2 linked regions of the Homo sapiens genome follow. The protein of the gene in region 1 interacts with the protein of each later gene in a pairwise test. Each region holds a gene or a part of one and is shown in the gene's direction. Other genes may lie near its edges.

The links.
Region 2: the proteins of CTNND2 (region 1) and NCAM2 interact in a two-hybrid assay, tested with the Homo sapiens proteins (one large-scale study listed by BioGRID and IntAct).

Annotation. Positions count from the first base shown.
Region 1 is NC_000005.10:11,386,885-11,390,701, reverse strand, and holds part of CTNND2 (catenin delta-2), read left to right. Parts: intron 1-3,817. UniProt on the Homo sapiens protein: Has a critical role in neuronal development, particularly in the formation and/or maintenance of dendritic spines and synapses. Involved in the regulation of Wnt signaling.
Region 2 is NC_000021.9:20,996,775-21,001,381, forward strand, and holds the start of NCAM2 (neural cell adhesion molecule 2 isoform 2 precursor), read left to right. Parts: upstream 1-1,634; 5' UTR 1,635-1,789; coding exon 1,790-1,844; intron 1,845-4,607. UniProt on the Homo sapiens protein: May play important roles in selective fasciculation and zone-to-zone projection of the primary olfactory axons.

The DNA of each region.
Region 1 (3,817 bases):
CCGGCTGCCCAGCATCCTGGGCAAATAGGCCTCCTGTCCCAGAACTGGGGGACTTGCTGGCAATTTAAGAAAACTTGGCAGGTCTAAATGCATCTTCACAGGACCGCTCATAAATCATGAGCCTGCTTTATAAAATGTGCTTTTGCTTAGTGACAGGGCTTACTCATGATGAGAAGTCAAGATTCCTTAGAGATTACAGGCTGTCAGGTCTCTTGTTAACTGGATATAAGCATTGGGGGGATTTGTTTTGTTTTGTTTGCACTGCCAGATCCCCAAAGAATGAGGATTGAATAAATTTTCAAGTTCTGAGAATTGTCCCCTTATGACTCCTCTGCCATTCCTACTCCCTCCATAGAAGATTCAGCGTGAAAGAATCTGGAAGCAAATGTGCTTGGCACTAAAACGAGTGCCACTTTCTGGTTTAAGAGTGCCATATTCTTAGGGGCTCCTACTCCCCCAAAGAACAGTGTCTTAATTGTGGCCAGATAGTATTCTGTACAAACAAAAATACTCCATCGATAGATCTCCAAAATAACATCAAAGTAAAATACTCCATATAAGGGAATTGTTGAGAGCTCTTCAAAAACAAACTCCTCATTTGTACATGGTGTAGACAGGTCAAGCATCCCTTGTTTGAAATGCAGGGGATCAGAAGTGTTTTGGATTTCAGATTTTGGCGGGGGGCGATTTTAGAATACTTGCGTATCCATAATGAGATTTCTTGGGATGGGACTCCCCCCCAGTCTAAAGACAAAATTCATTTGTATTTCATACATAACTCATAGCCTGAAGGTAAGTTTATATGACATTTTAAATAATGTTGTACATGAAACAAAGTTTATGTACATTATACCATCAGAAAGCAAAGGTGTCAGGTGTAGAATTTTCTACTGTGACATTCATGTCAGTGCTCAAAATGTTTGGGATTTTTGGATTTCAGATTTTGGATTTTCAGAGTAGGGATTCCCAGACTGTAGTAGGCTCTTCTTAATGGTTTATTGAGTCAGTGAGTAAATTAATGCATCAAACTTGAGTACTGTTCATTAATGGCTGTTGGAATAATGTACATATTCCCTAACTTCCCATTTCAATATTTTTTCTACTATACTTTGTAAATACATCCTCCCCTTAAACAGTTCTATAAAATAGATATCAATGCATCTACAATTACACAAGAGGCCTCAATATACCACTAAGTACACACACACACACCATGTAATGTAAAAATTGTGACACTGAATATATCCTAAATCTGACCCATCTGAAACATATGTATACAGATAAAATAATTTGTAATAGCTTTGATGAGTTAATGTTCCATATTTTTCTTGAAAAATTTCCCATAAGGGAAACAAGAACTGAACTACACTTAATGTGCACCATACTCTACCTATCAGAAACTGTTGAATCAGAACATCTCCTTGATGGGGTTGTTTATCTGTGAACATTCTGCTTCCTTGTCCATTTCTCGTAAATGGGTTCCTCATTTTGAAGGAGTGGGAAAGACAAATAAAGTTGCCCTCGAGGCTGAGACTGATCCAAAGAGCTGAGAATGAAGACAGAGTCAAGAATTGTCTCTGCCAACAGCCTAGATGGTGTGACCAAGGATGGGGCCCAATCTATTCCAAGTATATCTAAATTTGTTATATCATTATTTTTATTTTCAGAGTCACACATCAATAAAAAATTATTTCAACTGTCTTTGCATGTACACACACATTTCCAAATATCTGCAGGGAAGCAGTATGTAGTAATCTTTAGTTTAAAAAAGGAAAATGAAACTTTACTTGAATTCTAACTTTAAAATCAGATTTGCAGCTTTATAGTGCTAACATACTTTTAAGGTAGAATTGAACTCTTGTGACACTAAAGTGAATACAATTCTGTATGTGTTGGAATGTGTTTCGATTATCTCTAATGCAACGATGGGTAGTAATAAACTGTCCTATGATTGTGCAGCTGGCTTGAATGACAGCCTCAGGTAACCTTAACTGACAAAGAGTTACTAAATCAAATTCGGTAGTGAAAGAAAACATAAGCACAAGGGTGAAAAGAGGCTCCCCCAAATTTTGTTTTTATTCAAATGATGCTACAAAACAAATTTCTCTGTTTAACCAAAGAATAGTTCTTAGGCATTTATTACTCTATAAGCCATTGAAATGGAGTATAGCACCCCTGGTTTATTTATTGTAAACTGCAGAGGAGCTTAGACAACTGTGCTGTCCAAGAAGGTGGCCACTAGTCACATGTGGCTGTTTAACTTAATTAAAGTTAAGTATGTACTGAAGTTCCTCAGCTGATTAGCCACATTTCAAGCTGTCAATCAGCCCATGTGTTCAGCGGTGCCATATTGAGCAGTACGGATTGAGAACATTCTCTACGTTGTAGAAAGCATTGCTGGTAACACACCAGTGTAGCTGGTGCTCCTGAGAAGGTGCTCTAGTTGATAATGGCTTCTTATGCAAATGGATTCAGGAGGCTTTTTTGGAAGTGCATTTTAGTACACAGTGGACAATACCACTTACTATGTTAAACAGTATATAAAATTTTATTGTTTATACTTTTCCTTTTTTCATGCCAAAATTATTAGCACAATTTTACCAAGATCCTATAATATCTAAAAGACTTTCAAATTGGTTGCCGTAGCTTGTCAAAATGTCTACAGCTCATGTGGCAGTTGTCAAGACTTCTACAGATTTGGGGTGCATTTAAGAAAACATAGGAGACAGTCGTATTCAGCACTTAGTACACCTGAGACTAGATGTTTTGACAGATTACAAGAAAAATAAAGTATTTGTAAAAAGCATTAAGGTTTTCACAGGATATATGTTCTAATATTTAAATATTAGAATGAATACCGACTTAATATTCTCATTTACATTGGTATGCTTTAGTTAGTATTTATTAAAAATTATGCTATTTGGTAATGGCATCGTTAGTGTACTCTAAGGTTGTTTTATTAATGTTACATAGCCAAGACATAACAAAAAGTTTTTGTTTTGTTGTAAACAGGGAGCAGAGAGTGCTCCTGAAACCTTAGAGAAAGGGTTCTTTCTTCTCATTTTGTTCCTGTGGGAAGGGTTTTCAGAAATTTTTGTCGGATGCTTTTCCATCACTTGCCAGCTGTGTTCTGCATGGCTGAGTGTTGCTCAGGCCCCAGTTGATAGGGAACCCCAGTAGAGCTTCAGAAGAAAAATGTCTGCAGCTTAGTGGTAGTTCTCAGAGCAACAGCATTTGCCTGCTCTGGGAGATTGTTAGAAATGCAGACTCTGGGGCCCACTCCGCACCCTCCAAATCCAAGTGTCTTCTGGAGCAGTGTTGGCAAACTTTGACCAGCACCATAATCACCCAGAGTACTGGTTAAAACCCAGATCCCTCAGCCCCTCCCCCAGAGTTTGTTCAGTTTATGGTGGGGGTATGATTCTGATTGCTCTGATTCCTCTAGAATTTTTTTTTTTTTAATGCTGAAAAGACCATCAGGGACCTCCCTTTGAAAACCACTGCTCTAGCGGGACGTGGGACTCATGCTTGGTTGCACAGTGAAATCACCTGCTGAGCTTCCAAAAAAAACTGATATATGGTCTCACCTTCAGGGATGCTGAATTAAATAGCAATGGTAAGTCATGAGTATTGAGATTTTTTTTAAAAGCACCCTTGGAGATTATAATATACAACTAGATTTGAGAAGCCCAATCTATTTAATACATGTTTCATGCTCAGAGCTGCCACTGGGAGAGAAGCAAAATTGCATCAAAGCCACCCCCTCAATGACTCTGGATGAAGCTAGACTATTTCTCTGGGGCTCAGAGTAAGCACA
Region 2 (4,607 bases), on another chromosome or scaffold:
CCCCATCCCAGGATGCCAAGTGGACGAATCATCTGTATAAAGCGCTCTGCCTGGGGAGGACAAATCGCAGACGGTATCTCCCCTATGCATGTTAGCCTGTGTCTACTCTTGCCCCCTGCCCTCCCTGAAGGCAATGCACTGCCCTTTTCAGCGTGAAATCCCCAGGCTGGGGCTGGATTCTGAGCTCTACATTTCTACCTCCCCCCTCTCCAACCCCCGCTATTTCTATGTCCTCACTGATAAGGAAGGAGCTAGGGTCCTTGTGGAGGCCGGGGCGAGGCAGTTGAGTTTTCTAAGGAGCCAGAGAGAAAGTGCAGATGAAAGGACCCATCGTCAGCGTTTGCAGGTCGCGGTAACCCCAGGCCAGATTGACATGGGCTCCGCACCCGGGCCGGTGATTCTGCCTCTTAACCGCTCTTGCAGGAGAGGTGACGTTAATCTCACAAACGTTTTCCTACCCTTCTAGGAGAAATAACGATAAGCCCCAATCTTAAGGAGCAGAGAGTTAGTTCCGGGCGTTTGCCACGGCTCCCTCACTTCAATTTACACTCGCACACGCGGGTACGTGGGTGTTCGGGGTAGGGCACTGATCTGGGGAAGGTCTCCCCCCCGCGACCCAACTCATCTTTGCACATTTGCAGTCCTCCCTCGGTGCACTCCTGGCGGGGATCTGGCCAGTGCAGCGCACTGGGACCGAGGGCAGAGCCCGCGGAGTGAGGCCAGGAGAGACTTCAGGCCTCTAAGGACACAGCTGAGGCTAAGGCTGAGTTGAACGCAGCCCCTCCCGCGGCTCGTCCCCTCTCCAGTGTCTCTCCCGTAAGGTGCCGCTCCCAACAGCAATGGGTCGAGATGTAGAGGAAACACTCTGTACGTTATTTTTCCGCCCACCCTTTAGCGCCTGAGGAGACAGACAGTGTAGACTTTAGGGTACAATTGCTTCCCCTCTGTCGCGGCGGGGTGGGGAGCGTGGGAAGGGGACAGCCGCGCAAGGGGCCAGCCTGCTCCAGGTTTGAGCGAGAGAGGGAGAAGGAGGTCCACGGAGAGACAAGAATCTCCCTCCTCCCACGCCCAAAAGGAATAAGCTGCGGGGCACACCGCCCGCCTCCAGATCCCCCATTCACGTTGAGCCGGGGCGCGCTCGGGGCGGTCGCCTGCAGTATCAGTATCAGCATCAGCATCAGCATCAGCATCTGCATGAGCATCAGCTCAGCTCAGCTCAGCTCAGCATCAGCTCAGCTGTCCTGAGGCAGCCGGCGGCTGTGAAGGAGCTCCAGGCTGCCCCCATCCCCACGCCCTTCTCGGCTCAGGGCGTGCATGAACCTGCGGATGGCCGGCGGGCGAGTGGCGCCTTCGCGATCGCGGCCGCCCCTCTAGGCGGAGGCACCGGGGACCGAACCCGTGACTTCGAGCTCCACTGCGGACGAATCCCGGGACCGCGCGCCTCGCGGAAGAGCGGCCGCCGTGCAGCGCGGAGGGATACGCCTCGGCCGCACCTCCCCTCGCCGCGCCCCCGCCCCCGCCGCCCTCCCCGCCCGGCTCTGCTGCCGCCGCGGCGGCCGCTGCTGCTGCTGCTTCTGCCGCCGCTGCCGCCGCCGCTGCCTGGATATAGTGCGGCAAGAGCGGAGCTTGCAGTCACTTTGCGAGGAGGAGCGCGCGGGCTGCGGGCGGCTGGGGCACCGCGGGAGCGGCGGCGGCGGCTCTAGCAGAGGCGGCCGGGGCAGCGAAAGGTTCTCTCTCCAGGGCTGGACTTAATAACTTTGAAACTGTCCACCGGTGTCACGTCCTGAACATGAGCCTCCTCCTCTCCTTCTACCTGCTGGGGTTGCTTGTCAGTAGCGGGCAAGGTAGGAGTGTGGCGCTTTATTGCATTTACTTTCCCTCCCCCTTCCACCCGGCCAAGAGAGGCAAAGAGGGAGGCGCAGGAAGAATGAAATGAAAGAACTAAAGTTACAGTTATTGCTGTTGTTGTTATTATTATTTTCGTTCTTTCTCCTAGCTGTCCCTAAAATTGTATCTGTTGTGTGGAGACCCTTAAATAAGAGAAGGGAAAATACAGAATTGGAGAGGGGAATCGGTGAGCAGGATATCCAGGGAAACCGCTTCTTCTTCTTCTTTTTTTTTCCTCTGGGATTATGGCTTTCTCTTATTTTTATTATCAGAAATTGGATGAGTGTGTTAACAGTGAAATATCTGAGGTTGCGGAAGGAAAGGGCACGATGGTGTTTTACAGAAGCAGCAAAAACTATCAGTGTTAAACTCATTTGCAAAATATCTGCTGTGTGCAAGACGTTCGATTCTTGGAGACTCTTTTTTTTTTCCACCCCTTTCCCAAAACCCTAATTCCTGACTATGAAGTGAATGATGATGGCTTATTTCTGTTGGAAACTAAGAGAGGGGCCGTGGATATTGTGTGTAAGAAAGCAAATGGATAAAACTAGGGATGTGTTGCAGTCATTCATTTTGACCCCAACCCCTTATTAATACAGAAAGGTGGAATCATTTTATAACATTACATTGTAATTACACCTGTAGAGGATTTTTGGGGTTGTGGGAGAACTGGTGGAAGCTTTTATCTCTTAAAAAAAAAAAATGAATAGCCTGGTAGAATAACCTGAGAGGGAATTTGTGGAAGCTATCACTGTTTGTCTCTAGAGAGATAGATATGAATTTATCTGGCTGTTTAGATAGTAAACACTCACATGAAATATATTTACAATAAATGGAAGCATTTTCAACTGTCCAGACAAGTTTGGACGTTTAATTAGGGACACAAAATGCTAAAACATGCATTGGTGAAAGTCTTTAAAGGAAAAATAAAATAGCACTAATTTTGAGATATGTAATGATTGCAAAGAATGTTATGTTGTTAGTGTAGTGTGAAATTGGTTTTTTAAAATAATATAATAAATTACAAGACAAGTTAAAATATCCCCAAGATATTCAGTTCTAAGCATTTTTAGCCTCTTCTGTATTGCTCGTTTGGTCCAGCAGGGGGTGGTAGAACTCCATTTTAAGCCCAGAAGTTGGTTTCTGCTCTTCCACAGAGTCCTTCTATCATTCTTCAGCAGGGCTTGACATTTTGGATGTGAAGCCTTCCTTTTTCTGCCCTTCTCCTCCCCACAGCTATAGTGTTAGTGGCGGATGAAACACGATTGGATGCAGATTTAATGTTCAGAAATCAGTATGCAAATGTTGGATATTCCTATAGTTTGTAAAGTGTCTTGATAAGATTCTGCTCATTTTCCCTTCCTAACATAGAGTATGAAATATTTCAGTCTTAGCAAAATTGCAGATATGTCCATCTGAAGCTAATACTAGCCCAATTCGTTAATTCAGTGGTTCTTAAGCAAAGATCAGCATGCACATATGTCCTACAGATATGCTTCTTTAATTTTCAGATAGCTGCTGATTGTGTTTAACTGTTCATTTATAGCATAGACAGGTATTTTTGAGCACCAAGAAACAATCCCTGAAAATTGCAGTTAAAATACAACTGCAATTAAATAAGTGTAGGTAGTGTGGGGCAGAATGGGAGCATAATAGGAAACAAGTTTATGCAGACTTAGGATTACATTGTGAGTGGTTTGGAGAAGAAAAATGTCTCAGTTGTGGAATCTGAATTTATCATTGTAGAGGCTAAGTGTGTTGGAATTTGGAGACATAGGAAATTAGAAATGTTTAGATATATAGGTTTAAATAGTACACAGAGACATAAAATTTGGATGTGTACATGTAACATAGATGTGAAATTGTGATTCAGCTAATTTGTAAGTCAGGATACGAGGTGGTTATGAAGAGGCACTCTGAGACAAGCATCTCTGAAGGGGAGCCCATATTCACTGTAATGAAACAGGGTAGAAGGAGACCATCATTGTAAAGATCTCTCTATCTAGTACAATTTCACAATGTGTGGCACTCATAGAGACACAGATATATATCAGAGAGACGTAGCTTTTGTGAAAGGGAACATATAGTACTTCTATGCCATGTGTCCTGATGAAGTCAGAGATGCTTGGATATAGATATCCTCATCCTGGAGTCCAATTCCTCTATGCTAGTGTTTTGTTCTCTAATTAAGGATGCAGCAGCAAGTATCAGACACACCACCGGGAGCTGTTTAAAAAAACAGACCTAGTGTAACTCATGATTTTGTTTATTCTCTTGTAAAGAGGGCCATGGAAAAGCCACCAGTCAGTGATCCCTGGTCTTGCCTTAGAAATACTAAAATCTCAGCTTGCTGATTTATGTGTCCAACAGTATACTTGCAGGGGATTTTATGAAGCATGATTGAAGCTATTGCTTTGGAAAGTGGTGTGCAGTTAGACTGAGGAAAGGCAACAATGATGTATTCCCTTTTTAGGAGTCAAAACGTTTTGAACTGAAGCAGTTGAATAGGAGAAAATGACATTAAGTGAGAAACTGACTAACTTAAGTGAATGCCAATACTATAATTAGCTAACAAGGCCTAATAGTTTACTTGTAACTCTCAATACAACCTTATTGTTGTACAGTAGTAAGACGCTTTTTTTTATTGTAGCAGAAATACTCCTTTAAAAGCCTCTAATTTCCACTGCAAGATTAATGTATAATGAAGTAAGGTTAGAATG